Linked DNA regions of Homo sapiens: region 1 is linked to region 2. The links come from fine-mapping of genetic effects on gene expression. A gene starts in region 2. The other region holds a variant in brackets. All regions are shown on one strand. Distances are between the middles of the regions.

Region 1 (8,810 bases), 450 kb before region 2:
ACAGAATGTCTTTTTATCAGTATTTTGGCAAAGGTGAGAAGCAAGAGGGAAGCCAGAGCAATTTTATTCAAATACGAATCATTTTAAGAATGAAAAATACTGTTACACACCCTATCAACACATAATCTTAGTAAATTCGTTCTTAAAATTTAATCAAGTAAATGTGTGGGAGACTAAATAAATCAAGTAAAGTTGATTTAATAAAACCAGTTTCTTAGCTGTTTTTATTTATCATCCTAGGAGAACTGGATACTTTAATTAGGTTTGTAGTATGAAAGATACTGAAGTACATGTGGTATAAAATTAGAGATGAAAAATTTTGGAAAGCTTTCTCTGCCAGCTTTTATCCCAAAAGGACTGGAAAAGTCAATCCAAAGGAAAGGAACCAAAAAGCAATGTTAGCATAAAAAGCTCCACCTTTGAGGCCTGTGTGGTCAAGCAGCAAGACTGGCATACTGAACATGTGACACAATGAATCCTTGACTTTCAGAAAATTCTAGTATACAGCCTCTTGAAGTTGGTACTTGGGGTGGATGCTGATATTGTCCAGCATGTAATGTCTCATGATAAATGATGGCAGGATAAAAGCGATTCAACTTACAGTATTACCATTTTGACTTCATGATAAGAAATTCCAAATTCATCTTTATATTACAACAAATAAATTATAAAGCTGAATGAAAAGTTTTACATGAATCTGAGCTTATTGTGGTGGTCACTCCTTTAAGCTATACTACTGGATCCTCAGGCACTTGCCAAATATATTAAATTTTAAAGGGTATTTGATGGACAAAGTTGAAGAAGACAAAGTTCAAAGATCATTGACTTACAGCCTGGTATGTTTTTTGATCTTCCTCTCCTTGTAGTATCTCTGAGTACACAACATGATGGAAGTCCTGTGGTATGTAAGGGAGCTATGACAACATCAATTGTATCTGCATGGCTGTTACTGAGGAGAAAATATGTTTTCTTAAAAATCAAGGCACAAAATGATTAAACAAACCTTTTTCCATAGTGAACCAAATTTATGTTTTTGATGCAGCAGCCCAGATGAAAGGAATATGAAAAGTATTTCATATAACTTGCATGACAGGAACTCAAAAGCTGATCTATATTATAATCAATATAGTCTAAAGAGTCTTCCACAGTCTTAATATTGTATATGTTTAACACAACACCTGAAGTTGTGGCATGGTGGTATACTAGTTTTCGCACCTTGACTGCACAATGTAACTACCTAGGTAGCTTTAAACAACACTGATAACTAGGTCCTAGCCCCAATTATTCTGATTTAATTGGTCTGATTTGTGACCTTGGCAATGATATGTTTGAAAGCTCCCCATCATGATGCAAAGGTTCCGCCAAAGTTGAGTACTTGGTATGGTGGAAAAGGTATAGGCTCTGAATTAGAGATTAACCACTAAGAGAATTTTAGCCAAATAAAAAACCAGCTTAAAGAAATTATCTGGGCCAGACACGGTGGCTCACGCCTGTAATCCCAGCACTTTGGGAGGCCAAGGCAGGCGGATCATGAGGGCAGGAGATTGAGACCATCCTAGCTAACACGATGAAACTCCGTCTCTACTAAAAATACAAAAAAATTAGCCGGGCGTGGTGGCGGGCGCCTGTAGTCCCAGCTGCTCGGGAAGCTGAGGCAGGAGAATGGCGTGAATCCAGGAGGCGGAGCTTGCAGTGAGCCAAGATGACGCCACTGCACTCCAGCCTGAGCGACAGACGGAGACTCCATCTCAAAAAAAATAAAATAAATAAAAAAATACAAAGAAATTATCTGTAAAATAAAGATGATAATCTATACTTAAGTGTATTGCTCTAGATCTATCAATCATTCAAGTGGTAGAATAACATGTTAACAGACACTATGGGGATGCAAACAGCATATTCCAGACTGTGTGACATTCTACAGAAAAAAAATCTGATTTCTTAAAAACTGAAATAAAAAAGCAAAGCAAAGCAATGGAGGAGGAACCTACATTTAGAGAGACTTAAGAGATATTTTAACTAACTGCAGCATTTGAGAACTTAGTTGGATCATGACTCAAAAAACAAATTGTAAAAATACATACTGTACATATTACATGTATTCTAAATATTTTTATGACATTTGAATAACTATGAACAATTGGAGAAAAGGAGGGACACAGAAGAAATAAGCTGATGAAGCTGAATGGCACATGTGAATTTGTTTTACTATTAATCTTTTATTTTTGTATATTTATTGAACAAAAGTGCGATCATCACGAAATAGCAGATGTCAATAGGCATTCTGCCTCATCTTCACCTCAGGACTTGCCTGACAATTTGTTAAAATGCCATTAGAGCACTTCCCTTTTCAGTGAAAAGGCATAAAAAATCTGTATCAAAAAACAGAAAGTAATATTTATCACAGAACTGCAAAGCCCCACATCAAACAGTATCCTCACAACACTGGATATACTTATTGACTTCCTGTGTTGAATACCGGCAGAAATCAGGGGAAAGACTGTAATAAGTAGTTCCTTCTCAGTTATCAAATAAGGTTATCAGATCCCCAAAAGCAAGACTCATAATGCATATTTCTTTTATTTGGGTATCACACCAAAAACATAAGTTTGGTTCACTATGAAGAAAGGTTTCCTTAATCATTTTGTGCCTTGATTGTTTAAAAACATGCTTTCTTATCAATAGCAGCCATGTTGACGCAATTAATTCAGGCATAGCTCCTTTTTTTTTTTTTTGAGGTGGAGTCTCGCTCTGTCGCCCAGGCTGCAGTGCAGTGGCATGATCTTGGCTCACTGCACGCTCCACCTCCCAGGTTCACGCCATTCTCCTGCCTCAGCCTCCCGAGTAGCTACAACAAGAAGCGCCCGCCACCACGCCCGGCTAATTTTTTGTATTTTTAGTAGAGACGGGGTTTCACCATGTTAGCCAGGATGGTCTCGATCTCCTGACCTCGTGATCCACCTGTCTCGGCCTCCCAAAGTGCTGGGATTACAGGCGTGAGCCACCACGCCCGACCCACACCAAAGTACTCTTTATCATGTGGCATACAAAGTAACACTACAAAAAGAGGAAATTCAGTCCTTTACACATCGTGAGCAGTAAGAATAGTATTTCTCAGATCCTTTATCCAAATACTTAGGAACTGATTTATCATTAGGAACTTTTACTCCTGACCACCTTAAAATTTGGCTAAATTTTCTTTTTCTTAGTAAATATATGTTTCTGTCTGTCTTCAATAGGACTGGTCTTCAATGTTCATATTTGGAAATTAAAATTTTTAAAAATATTACGGAATTTTTCCTGCTATCCCAAGTGTACATTTTAGTAATTTGGGGTGCCATAGTTTATGAACTCTTTTAACATATTTT[A/G]GGGTACTGATATGAATAAGATCTGAATAGAGTTCATAAAGTTAAACAGTTGAAGTACTGGAAAAAATAATTCTGAAACAAGATTAAAAGGGAAGACAAACATTTTCACACTATCGCAGTAAATAGAAAATGTTTCTTGTTGTTATTGACTTGCATTGGAAGACAGAATAAAGATAAATGAATCCAATTTACAAAGATATGTTTCCTTAAGCTTATTGTAACAAATAACTTTCTAACAGAGCTGTCCTAAAATGTAAAGTATTGCCCTTTGAGGTAACAAATTCCCTTTCACTGAATATGTTTAAACAGAACAAAAAAAAATGTAAATGACAGACTGTGGACTATTAGTTAAAATGTCCAGAATCTATGGCTTTATGAAAATATTTACTACAACTGATGTAAGAACTTATTTCAGGAAATAGAGCAATCTTGAAAGATTAGAAGCTTTATACCTTAATTTTAATCTACGCCCAAGTTTATCCATTAATAAATATTGAGAATGAACTATATGCCTATACAATTCTTAGTTCTGAAGATATAATAGTGTATGAAATTGACAAATCCCTGCCTTATGACACTTACATAGGGAAAGGGAGAAAAAAGCAAACAATAAGTTTACCAAATTTATCATATACAAACTTCCCCAGTCAATGTATACATTTCTGGCTAGCAATATATTTCTGCTTGAGTAACAGTCAGGGATAATAAAGATCTTTTTTAAGTATCACTAAAGCAGAATAACAGTGAGTAGAGGTGTTAGTTTAAATCTAACTGATGCCCAAGTTGGTAGCCATAACAAGTTCATCCTAAATTCTAGGACACCTATTCTCCATTCCTTTGTAGAACAAAAAAATAAAAAACATCACGGCACATTCTGAAGTACTACTGTTTTATATAAGGGCTTTAGCCAAATTCTTCCTGTTTTAAAATAAATCATGTTAACATTTAAAATTACTCTTTCACTTAAATGAGTACTCATTAGTTTAACAAACATTTTTATTTTATTTATTTATTTTTTTTGAGATGGAGTCTCACTCTGTTGCCCAGGCTGGAGTGCAGTGGTGTGATCTTGGCTCACTGCAATCTCCGCCTCCCAGGTTCAAGTGATTCTCCTGCCTCAGCCTCCCGAGCAACTGGGACTACAGGCGTGTGCTACCACGTCCAGCTAATTTTTGTATTTTTAGTAGAGACAGGGTTTTACCATATTGGCCAGGCTGGTCTCAAACTCCTGACCTCGTGATCCACCCTAGTTTAACATTTTTTATTTGTTACCCTCGGCCTCCCTAGTTTAACAAACATTTTTTTAGGCACTTAGTATCCATGAGGCATAGACCTGCACTGCACAAGAGCAATATAATGTAAGATACATTACAATTGTAAATTTTCTAGACACCACATTAAAAAAGTGAAATTAATTGTATTAATATAGTTTATTTAACCTAATGTATTCAAAATATTATCACTTCAATATTAATCAGTATAAACAAACAAGATGTTTACATTCTTTTTTCTTTCCATTCTAAGTCATTAAAATCCAGTGTGTATTTTTTTTTTTTTTTTTTTTTTTTTTTTTTTGAGACGGAGTCTCGCTCTGTCGCCCAGGCCGGACTGCGGACTGCAGTGGCGCAATCTCGGCTCACTGCAAGCTCCGCTTCCCGGGTTCACGCCATTCTCCTGCCTCAGCCTCCCGAGTAGCTGGGACTACAGGCACCCACCACCGCGCCCGGCTAATTTTTTGTATTTTTAGTAGAGACGGGGTTTCACCTTGTTAGCCAGGATGGTCTCGATCTCCTGACCTCATGATCCACCCGCCTCGGCCTCCCAAAGTGCTGGGATTACAGGCGTGAGCCACCGCGCCCGGCCTCCAGTGTGTATTTTATACTACAGCTCATTTCAATTGAGATTGGCCACATTTTAAATGCTCAATGGTTACATGTGGCTAGTGGCTATAGGAAGTAGAATATTTTACACTACAGCACATCTCAATTCAGGCACTAAATTTTCATAGGAAATACTTGACCTTAATTAGATTTAGACTGATTTAGATCATATTTAGATTTCATGAAATTTACAGTTGAAAAAGTAGATCATATATCTAAGTTATTCCTAATATATTTAAAAATTGTCCAATAATGGAACCAAGTATCGGTTTTTAATTAATAATTAAAACTAAAAATGCAGTCCCTTAGTGGCATTACATGAATTTCAAGTACTCAATAGCCACATATGGCTAGTGCTGCTATACTGGATACTGCGGTAATATTTTCAGACAATGTAGCAAGGAGTTTCCAAAATTATTTTTTTCTCTTCCATTTTCTTTTGAACTGCACCAATTCCGGTCAAAGGACTGGTGAGGAGATTTATTTTTCCTTTAGAAATTATACCCTGCAGAGTCTTGCACAGAAACTGAGACAGTTCCTTTGAATCAAAATAGTCAATAGTCTCTTATTTCCAAAGTTAAGTACTCCAACCCCAATGGAGAGAAAGCTCTCAATTCCCGTTCATGACTGACAATTCTGCCATCCACCGTGCCACCCAAGCTGGAGATAACTTTATGGTTACCAGGTTGTCACTGAATCCTGTGTAATTAGCTAGCTAATACCTTTTCTTCTAGCTTTATTTCATCACCTTCCACTCTACCTTCAACTGTTGCTGCCTTAGTTAGGTACGTATCTTTGATCACCTGGGCTATTTTAAGTACCTTCTAAAGCTAATCTTAAAAACACAGCTCAGGGACATAGATGTATATAATATATATATATATAAGATACATATATATATTATATACGTATTATATATATTATATATATTTTACATATGTAATCACCCAAGTAACCACCACTGAGAGTAACATATAGAACATCCCCAGAACGCAATAAAGTTCCCTCCTGTCCCTGAGCCACCCTGTCACAGCCCAGTATCAAGTAGTGTGATGGATTTCTGACTAGTTTTGCCCTTTTGAACTTCGTGTAAATGAAATTACATAGTATATGTTCATTTGTGTCAGGCTTCTTTTACTCAACATATTATTTGTAAAATTCATCCATGTCATTGCCTGTACCAGTAGATCTTTTTTATTGTTATTTGGAATTCTGTAAGTATTCAAAAATGTATTCATCCATTCTCCTGCTAATGAGACTTTCCAATTTGGGGCCATTATGAATAAAGCTGGTATGAAGATTGATAATGTTGGTTTAAGTATTAAAATAACCCAAAATACATGGTCGATATGTTCTTCTTTCCCTCCCTTATATTGGAGTCACAGTAGAAACTGATGCTGTATATACTACACAGAATGACATTAGACACATTCCAAATCAGTTTGCATTTTAAACAAAAGACAAGCCATGTATACCTTCAATTACTATACATGTTAAGTGCATGCAAGATACATTCATATCACATTAACAGCCACAAACATTAACACCCAATGAATAAAAAAATTTGATTACATTTATTATAACATTTTAGCATCTGCTCTACATTTTCTAATGCATCAAGAAGAGACTAATCTAGGCAACACCAACAGATATTGCCACCCTACCAACCTTATAAGACAAAGCATGTAAAAGGTAATATGTAATCTTAAGATATATCTAAGAGGAGTTACAAAAAGTTTGTTAGTATAACTTTGACCATTTAAACAAGTTCAGTAAATCTGAGCATATAAAATTTCTACTACTTTATAAAATTAGCACCTGCTTATTTCCTTAAAATTATTATTGAAAAATTTAAGTCAAGATAATGCTTAGGTCTGAAACATAGAAAGGAGTAGTAATTTGTATAGATGCTATGCAAATACTATGCACAGATGTGTTAAATGACTGCCGTACCTCCTCCATGGAGGAGATGAAATTAAAACAAATCAGATGTGAAATCGATGTTTTATGAAAATTAATATAACAGCAAAATTAAAATTATTTCCTTCTTTGCCATAATGTTAATCTTTCCTAAACTAAATATTCTATAAGACACTCAATAAAAGTCATTTTATTGCTAGTGGGTTTTCTAGTATTTTAAAGCAAAAGCAGAATGACAAATATAGTATTAAAGTCACTATTCAGATTCATTCAATAACCACAAATAAACACGGATAGTGAACCTGACCTTTAAAAAAATTCCTCTTTTGTGGAAACATCACTTATACTTTGTACTACCATAAAGCTATAAATTCATACAAACTAAAAAGATGACTAAAATCTTCATATTTTTCTCCTTACCTCCCATTCTCTGGCTGCTGCTTGATTACTAGAATCCTCAATTGTTTCAGACTCCTCAATCTTTTTTACTACTATAAATCCAGGTTCTCTGGTATATTCGCCAGTATCTTCTGCATATATTTCTGGACTCCACTGAATGAAGAAGGCATACAAGTGATCTGTCCTGTTAGGAGAAGTGACTATTAATATACCTAGTATTCTGTGCTGCCAGAATTAAAAAATTATATTTGTAAAATATCTTGATAAATCTTGAAGACTTAAAATATACACAAAATATATTGTTTTATATTAATATAAAAGGTCTACTATCAGGAAGGCATTAACTTAAACATTTTATTTGGCTATATTCTGTCAGGTTGTTCTTTAGAAAACCAAATTAAGATTTTCCTTGGCATGTGTTTGACTAGTTCAGATGTTGTATATTATAAAGCTTTTCTTCTTTAAAGACACTAGTGATGGAAAAGGAAATTAGATACACAACTTTGACCTCATTCCTACAATAATCTAATGATCTAAAATACAAGTAAACAATTTATTAATGGCCTATTTTGAGACATTATATACAATTTTCCAAGTTAATAGAAATGTAATGTCCTTAAATTTTAAATGATACTAGGAACATACAGTGTTGAGAGACAGATGATCTAATCTTAGAAATCTCAGGTTCCCCTTTTCAATGTTTTGTTTACTACACTAAAGCCAGTTGTTACATTCCCTGATAAATGTATTTGAGAGTCACACACACATTTCAAATATCTACGTTTTATTGGTTTTAATTAACATGTTTTTGAAAATTGATTATATAACTTTCAGCTAACATATACCAGTTAATAACCATGGTTCTAGAAATTATATTTTCAATATAATGATTTTTAAAATTGCCATTCTTTACGTGGCAGCTAACATATTTAAAAGGTGCTACATTTTATCTTTCAATGTAACATCTTACCTTTTTATCAATTTCTCACTATCTATGCAGCAGTTTTCCTAAGTTTTATGTCTACAATAAAGATCAGAATCCTAATAATACTAATTTGTAATGAATATTAACCAAGATAAAAGAATGAATATTAAAATAGGGAATTCCATGTAAACATTAAAACCAAGAATAATGAGAAAAACTAAATTTTTATGTCCATTTTAACTAAATATAGTTACATTTCTCATTGTAGTGATTTCAACATCACTGGAACGTTTGAATATCAGGCTCTGTCCCTTTCAG
Region 2 (8,810 bases):
AATTAGTACAGCAGAATAGTTCTGATTTGGTTTTATCAAACAATGTTTACTTAGCTCACATGCACATATGCATATGATTCACCTTTTAGAAATTCTCAATATGTCTTAAGATTTTTTGTTTGTTTGTTTTTTAAAGGCTGAAAAACAGTTCTGCCAAAAGGAAGCCTCTTTAATTTCCTTAAAACAAGTGTTTTTGAATATGGACCATTTTGCAAAGAAAGTCTCTTATTAACTACTCTTGATTTTCAAGATGGACTTCCAATAGGAATATTTGAAAGTATCCTAAAAGGGGTTGCTTTTAATGTTAAGCACATCTTATTGAAAGCCAAGTTTCTCAAATTAAGCATTACTGACATTTGGGCTGGATAATTGCAGAAGGCTGTCCAGTTTATTGTAGAATGTTCACAGCATCCCTGGCCTGGCCCACAAGACACCAGCAGCACCTCTCCCCCAAAGTTGTGACAACCAAAAATGTCTCCAGACATTGTCAGTATCCCCTAGGGGGTAAAACTGCCCCCAGTGGAGAATCACTGCTCTAAGCCTATCAACAAGATCTATCCCTAAAGTGAGAGAAAGTGATTTCTCTTCTTCCACTTTGACTGACATCTCTATTTCTCATTCTGCCTCCTCAAGCCATTTCACCACCTTTACTTTCTTCTTCTTCTTCTTTTTTTTTTTTCTTTGTAATGACTTTATCTTAGGGCAACAAAAATTCCATTGACTATTTTCTAAAGCTTCCCAGGATTTAGGGAACAATCCTCCAGAAAAAAAGTGTCCAGTTAGGCTTCCACTTAAGGACCAGGAACCAGCCCAAGGGTACAATCCTTTGTATTTCAAATGCAGGAGATCGGGAGTAAAAGATTCTCTCATCTCACATTAAATTTAGCATTCTATAATGAAGCCTTTTCCTGCACACACTCAAAAGATCTACCCGGACCTAATCTCTGCTTTTATATGATACCCTAATCAATTTGGCCGACTTTCCCTCTTCCGTGACCCCCAAACAAAACAATACAGGCAAACATATCAGATGATGTTTTATTTGAACAGCATTCTGTGCAGAACAGAATGGCTAAAATGATCATTTATTTTACCTTCACATGATTTATAATAATGACTGAAAAAAATCATAGCCATAAAAGCCAATAATGACAGCAGAAGTCTTTTTATTCAAATCTCCCACCTTACAGATGTCCAGAATAATCAACATATTTCAAAGGGTATATTTCAAAAACGTACTAGCAACTCAGCCAGCCACTGTCACATGGAATAAGAAGACATGCCCTGGCCATTAGAACCATGCTGTCCTCGCTCTTGTGTCCCTCCACGGGACAGACATCACCTTGCAAGACAACTCGTGCCACTGTCCCCAACAGTTTTCCACAGAGTTCTTGTTTCCCTTCATCTGAATCTTCTCTGTGCAATTTGATGTCCTGAACTATTTCTGACGGTTGCACACAAGATCTCAGGGACTGGACCTTTTAGTTATGAGACCAGCCCTCTTAGACAGCAGACAGTAGGTACAGTGCTTGCTCTCCCTTCTTTGCATCCTTCCAGAGTTGCCTTCATCCTCATTTCCTGCATCTGGTAAAGTCTCTCTGAAAATGTGAAACCGACGACAGAACATGGCAAGCTGGATGGAGAAGCCGACAACCCCTCCCCCACTCTCACCCAACGCCGGGCCGGTCCTGTTTCGGATCCTGCACACTGTGGAAGCTTCTTGCTTCCTTGTTTTGGTGGGTGAAATCTTTGCTGTTCAAAAAGGTGTTTTTGCACAGAAATTTTAGGACGTGTTTATTCTAGTAACGTAGTGTTTTCTTTTTTCGCTATATTTACATGTGGAGAACTCCAGGGAGGCCCCCACCAGAGATCCCTTAAATGCTGGTCTCTGTCCCTGCTTCTCGGCCCCGCTGGCCTTTTGGAGCCATCGTGCTTCCCAGTCCGCAGGCAACAATCACAGCATCACCTGCAAGGGGCAGCAAAGTGAACCGCGGACCCCTGGAGTGACGCCTTGGAGATGGACCCTTTGGATTTGGGAACCCCTCTGACGGCCGGGACTCCCAGGATTCCCTTCCATAGAGGGAGTCCACGGTGGTCGCAGCCGGCGGCTGAGTCCTCCTTAGAGTGCCGAATCAGAGAAGACCCGCATCAGGTTTGGGATGTAAGTGGAGAGGGAGAGGTTAGAAAGAGGCATCATTGGATAAGCAAAGAATGCTACCCTGGGAAAAGGAGGCAGAAAAGACGTAGGGAAGTATGTTCCCCTTAATCCCTTCCCCGTGCCGCCCGTAGATCCCTGGATCTTCTTGTCACGGAGACAGGCTGCAGCCACACACGCGACCCCGGGCCGGAAACATGCACACGCGCGCGCACACACGCACACACACGCCCCGCTGCGAGTTGCACGCTGCAGACTTCTGCCTGACTTCCCGGCCAAAAACACCGCACCTCTGGGGCCAGACCACGAATTCCTGTGGCCTAGAACTGACACCACTCCCCCTACCCCCGCAATACACACATTCAGACCCTACACTGCACCCTGAGCGTGCCGGGAACCACTGAACGGAAGCCCGAGCAGCTCCCCCCGTAAACGACTACCTTCCCCACTGCCTAATGTCTATTTAAATCTCCTAAAGCTCGCCTACAGCGAGCCGAGGTGCGTCCAAGCCGGGTAGTAGACGGAGGAGGAGCCAGGGGTGAAAGTGAACCTCAGATAACAGTACTAAATCACTATTCAAGGGGCGGCACGGGGAAGCCTCCAACCCTCTCCTGAACCTTTCAGGCCCTACCAGCAGCCCAGTTCCTCCGCCCGATACTGCACAGCTCCCCCCCTCTTCACCCAAATCCCTCAGCGATTTTCCAGTCGGCCCTCCAGGCCACTTTCTACATCCATCCTTTCCCCAGCCAGTTCCCAACATGTGGCCTCGGGTACTCTAGCGGGAGACAGATTCCAGGCTGACTCCATCATGATGTGCCCCCTAGCCTTTTACTGATTCCCCAAATTATCCGAATCCACTCGCCCCTCCGGAGCCCACTGTCCCTTCCACCGGCGTCCTTTGCTCTCGTCCAAATCCGCTTTCCACGCGCCCCACTTTCCACCCATCCTCCTGCCGTTCTGTTCAAGACACGCTTGCCCTCCACTCTGCGCCCCCAACACTGCTCTCACGCTGCTCCCACTCTATCCCCCGGCGACACCCCCACTTTCCTTCTGCGGCTGTCCCTGGCCGGGCTCCCGCGCCCCAAACCCAGCCTCCCCGCCCGGTCTCCTCCCTCGCCGCCCGGTCTCCTCCCTCGCCGCGCGGTCTTTCCTTCTTCCCAAGTCCGCCCTCTGGGCCCCCGCTGGAGCTAGTTCTGCCCTCCTGCTCTGCCCGTCGTCCCCGCTCGAGCATCCCAATGGCCACCCGCTTTCAAATTGGCTAAGTGGCTCGGAGAGGCGCCAGGCACAGGGGGCAGAGGCCAGCCGGCTCTCCCGGGCGCCAGCCGCGCCTCTCGCTATCCCTCCTGGACTCCCCCGGGCGCCAAGCCCTCGCCCTAACGCCCAGCAGCCTCACAAACTTACTTGCGGGTCGCCAGGAGGGGGCTGCGGTGAGCGGCGGCGGGCCCCGCGGCGGCGAGTGCGCCCCTCTCGGCGGGGCTGGGCGGCGCGGCGCCGGCGCTGAGCTCCTGTGGCCGCGAGGTGAATGGGCTCAGCCTGACGCAGCCCAGCTCTAGCCCCGCTGCTGCCGGCGCCGCTGAGCGCTTGCAGACATGCTCAGTTTCCGGACCTGCCCGCGTGGAAGCTACCAAGAGCCGGCAGCGGCGGGGGAGACTGAGAGGAGCCGTGGGGCGCCGCGAGCCGGAGGCTACCACGCCGGGGGCGGGGGGAGGCACGCACCGCTAAAAATAGCTCCTGCGGAAGCCACGCTGGCTTAGCGCGCACCCCTCCCCGCGCGCGGCCCCTCTGGCTGGGGTTCGGGTTTCTGCTCTGGCTACCGCGGTGGGGACCCCAGCTCGCCGAGTCCTGCCAGGCGTCTGCCTGCACTAGGATCCCCATCCCGGTGGAGACGGCGCCTCCAGTTCAGGCGCCCACTCGAATAGCCTGGACTAAGCCAGAGCTGCCCCGATTTCGGGGTCCCGCCTGTCGGGCAGCTCTAATACTAGGCTCTCCCTAGAGAAGCAGAGGAAAGTTTTGTTAAAGCGATAAAAAAGCTTCTGCAAGGAAAGCTGCAAGGAAATTTGTTCAGATTTACGGAGGAAAAAAATGTTCTTCAGATGCTTTGGTTGCTGGGAAAAACAAGGAGGAAAGGAAGGCGAAGTCTGACAGCCTAGAAAGGGACCCAAGGCAGCTTGGAGCGGGCTGAAGGGGGTTCTGCAAAGAGCTTCTAAAATTCAGAATTCTTTGCAAGGCGTTTGTGACTCCTCATTCCGCAGTGTTTTGCATAATTCGTTGACACCCCACCCTGACCTTGGAGATTTTCTTGTTCCTGTCACCTGAACTGTAATTTACTTTCTCCGCATGCTGCCTTCACTCCTTCCCCCTCCAACCCGGTTTTAAATTGCAAAACGAAAAGGGCGCAAACTCTGGATGGGTAGATTCCCAGACCTGAACTGGAACCTGGCTGTTCTGTAACCCTGAGGAAAGGAGCTGGTCCTGTTGCCGAGTTCGGGATGTATCCCAGATCTCCTGTGCATCCAGCAAACACTTCAAGCGTAGGAGCCTTTCAGCCACCTCACCTGCAAATTAGCTATTTCCCGCTATTAGTGTTCACTCTATTCTACCTTAATTTCTGATCATTTATTATTATTTTTTAATTCTGTTCTTTAAAGTAAGAGGTACAGATATTTCCTGGGTCAAATTTCCGTCTTGTTTCACTCACCTCTCACAGCCACCCAATGAGAGAATCATTATTATTCCCATTTGACAGACAGGGATGTTGAAATTTAGCGACAGGAGCTCATCGCTTGTCTGGAATAATAGAGTGTTGAACCTAGGGTCGGCCAGACTAGAAACTTTCATGGTTTCCGCATAACCTATTTCCCCGAGTCAATAGCTTTACCTGAGATAAGGGATCAAGAAAATTAGATACTATTCTGAGTGGCGTGGCGTGTCAACAGTAAGCCGATTGATAAGCCGATTGCGGGTTTTGTTCTCCATTATTTTTACCTAATTTCTTTACGAGCATTCGCAGCTTAAATTTTCTGTTATGTTGAAACTGATAGCGTTTAATTTTTATTCTATCAGAAAGATTTTACTGAGAATCTTCTACAAGCAATGTATAGACTAGGTATGTATTTTATAATTATCTCAGTTCAGACTCTGTGATAAAGCTACTTTGTTTTCCCAGTATTATAAATTAGTTAGACTTTGCTAACCCTACTAAGTAATGTACATGTGATTTTTTCATAGAACTGTAGTGGAATCTGTCTATTTGGGTCAAGATGTCCTCCCTCCTAAGATATTTGCGCCCTTCCATCCCCACTTGCAATTTAGTGCCATGTGCACCCCAAAATAAGTAATCAATTAAGGTTTGATCTTTTACTTTTTTACTGAAGCTGCAAATATTATCTGCAGGACCAGGGCCACTTTATAATGACAACATCATGTTTCTAATTTTCCATAGGTGATTCATTGGGAGATCAAAATGTGAATTTCCTTAGACTATCAACACAAATCATTCCTTTCTATCAGTGGTGAAGGAAGGTGAAAAATAAACTTTACTTTCATCCTGGTTGCTTTCATTCTTCCTCTTTCAGTAATTATTCTTAAGGTGGTATGGCACTCTGAACATCTTCATGCTACAGCATGCACACTACCCATAATCATGAAACAGGGAAAATCTTGATTTCAAAGTCTCTTTGGTGTCCTATGGAAAAGTGTAGCTCAAAAACGTACTGCATTGAGGACTCGAAGTAACAAGTGACAGGGATGCAATTCTAACTTAGGCAGAGAAAATGCATTGACCCGTGTAACTCAGAAGTACTAGAAATAGCAGGGCTTGTCCTGGGCTTAACAACATTAGGAAGAATATGATTTTCTCTTTCTCTAACTTGCTTTCGGCATTGCTTCCTGTGTTGGTTTCATTCCCCTCACATTATGTCCATAGTGCCAGCCCTACACAGTTGACAAATTTTGTAACCTTACAAAGAAATCAAGTCTCTTGTTCTGTTGAGCAGATCAATCTTTGAAGGTGTACTCTTATTGGCTGTCCTGGCTCACACAATCAACCACCTGCATCCTCTTGGGGATGAAAGATTCTCAAAAGGGAAAAAAGTATTTGGTTAGCAAAAGAAGGAATAGGGGATGTTTGCAAGATGGAAATAATGGATAACCAGTAAACTCATAGACTGGCCTGTTTCCCCATGGACAAAAAAAGGACAGCAAGTGTGTTGGGAGGTCCGTTGGTTTCAGTTATTCAGAAATGAGCAAGATAATAATAATGCTTTGAAGTGAACTTTTCCCATCTCTTTTTAGGCTCAGTTGCTTTGATTTGCCTGCCTAAGGGTAACAGAGAGTCCCCTCTTTGTTGCCTTTTCATCTTTATTTCAGGGCCCTGGTTATTTCCAAGGTGGTGCCACTCATTAAAGACAGCTAATGAGCCACCCAGCCAACTGACGCTTTCAGTCCCCAATCTGTCTCTGCAGGAAAAGGATGTTTTCCATATTATTAAAGCCCATTTTTTTTGTTTTGATCTAATGTACTTGATCATTATGTAAACCATTTGATAATAAAAAGTGGGGGTTTTCCCATTGTGCCTCAAAACATGAACAGATGGGGGAAATGCTGCTGTCCTTATAGTTTTGTATTATTTCTTATGCTAGAATTATTTGAATAATTGGCTGTCTTTTTTCCCTTTACTTATCTTATGCAATTTGTTTGTTACCTCCTTTAATATTTGTTATTCTAGGAATAAATCAATGCAATCCATGAGTCATCTCATTTAAACTGCATTCTATAGTTACGTTAAACTTATCAAATCCAGGATCTTTTCCTTGAACTTCTTCTCATGACTTTGTACATTGTCTTCTAGGAACTCCTCCCTTAGCTCTGTCACACCACAGCAAACATATTTTTTTTTTTTTCTCTGAAACGGAGTCTCACTCTGTTGCCCAGGCTGAAGTGCAGTGGCACTATCTCAGCTCACTGCAACCTCTGCCTCCAGGATTCCAATAATTCTCCTGTCTCAGCCTCCCACATACCACATCTTAACCTACACCTCAGATTATTCTTCTTTTCTTCTCCTAGTTCTCATCTCTGTAGTTCTTTGTCCCTCTCTACACCACACTGCCTTTTTGTTTTAGTTATCTACATACTTGCTTCTCCTCCCCCACTAAACGGCAAGTTTCTGGAGGATTGGGGCAATGGCAAATTTATATTTGTGTGTATTTTATCTTCGTCAGTGCTCAAATAGGTGCTTGCTGATGCATTGAGGGATTATAGGACAGGAAGTGAATATTTAAGTCTGAAACGGGGAATGCATGAGGTGGGCACTAAGTCATCTGCTTTCAGGGAGTCAAGGAAACATGGAGAGAGCTGATGCTGGAGGTAGGCTGACATGCAATATACACTACTTCTTTCACCATTTTGTGTAGGGATACCTCTGTATAGTCCGTTCTTTTCTCCTTTACTTTGTCTTACTTTGAATTCCTTCACTGAGATCTATGCTACACTGCCAAGCATCTGGTATACTTCCAGGTATTGGCACTGACCACTGAGCATATTCTCCTTCCATTGCACAGAGGCAAACCATTTTAGATACTTGGACACTAGCCTGTCTTTCTGTTGCACTTCTTTCATACCAAATTTGCTTTTAGAAAATCAGAACCAAGGTAGAAATGTGAAACAATTTGTAAATGAGTTTTTTAAGGGAAAAGGAAATACCAAGACAGTTTCATTAAAGGGCTATTAAAAGTTTGTCTTCTTGATAGCTATTTTCCCGTTGTGAAAAAAATTAAATTTGGAGAACTAAATAGTAGTAGTTCAAAGTCACTTATGCCCCAATTATTTTTTCATTTCATGACTATAGATAAATGTCACAACAGATTCATTAATGATATATACTAAAGATATAAATGCACATTTCTACCCTCTCTCTGCACTTTCAGGCTGAAACAATTCTAGATAATAGTCATGGGACATTAAGGATCACACAGTATTTGTGAATCAAAGATGCTTCTTGACTAAAAGACTTAGCTCTGATGGCCCTTTCCTCAGGAAAGAAGAATGTGGATAATTATGTACTTCAAATATCAGGATGCTCTTTTCTTGCCTCTGAATCTAACACAAACGTGGCTTAGTTCTTGCAGAAGCAGCAAGATCCTGATAAAGCTACAACTCGTTTCACTTCTCTTTGAGTCCAATGCTACAATAACAAGTATGTTTAATGTGTGATCTCAGATTCTCAAATATAACTAAGAAATCTATGACCATTAGTTTATTTCCACAATGTTTTTATTATAACGGATTCAAAATACTACTGTGCATCAACTAATATTAATAATAATATTCAACATTTATTGGTACTTCTATGTGTCTCTTTCTGTGGTAGGCACTCCTTTGCATACTACTTATTTAATTCTCATAGCAATCCAATGAGGTATATAGTATTTTAGCCTATTTTTGGTTGGACATATAGAAATTCAACCTAGACTGGTGAAGGTGAAAAGGGAAATTTTCTGGCACAATAGTAGAGTGAAATATAAGACAGGGAGCTTCTCTGAGCCTCAGGAGGTGGAAATGCCATCACAATTCTGTCCATATCTCATCAGCAGGTTTATTTTCCCACCTTGCAGACAGGCTTTTTCCACAGCCTGTATAGTCCTTGGATCCCTTCATT

Which allele goes with the higher level. Alleles are on the strand shown, and positions count from the first base shown. SD is a standard deviation of normalised expression in the study named.
In carriers of allele G in region 1, the expression in non-classical monocytes of the gene that starts at base 3,734 in region 2 tends to be lower than with A alone (large effect, 0.81 SD a copy in Schmiedel 2018).

What was found. PIP is the estimated chance that this variant, and not a neighbour inherited with it, causes the effect.
Region 1: its variant is fine-mapped to the expression of OXR1 in non-classical monocytes (Schmiedel 2018, PIP 0.95).

Annotation. Positions count from the first base shown.
Region 1 is chr8:106,712,764-106,721,573 of GRCh38, reverse strand. It overlaps OXR1 (oxidation resistance 1), which reads right to left. Exons shown (of 17, transcript NM_001198533.2): 11 at 7,589-7,751. Among named protein-coding and RNA genes, the nearest start is that of ABRA, 53 kb to the left of the region's middle. The variant A/G (reference allele first, on the strand shown) is at 3,369.
Region 2 is chr8:106,265,114-106,273,923 of GRCh38, reverse strand. OXR1 (oxidation resistance 1) reads right to left here and starts at 3,734. Exons shown (of 17, transcript NM_001198533.2): 1 at 3,557-3,734. RefSeq lists silencers at 3,380-3,739, 3,760-4,009.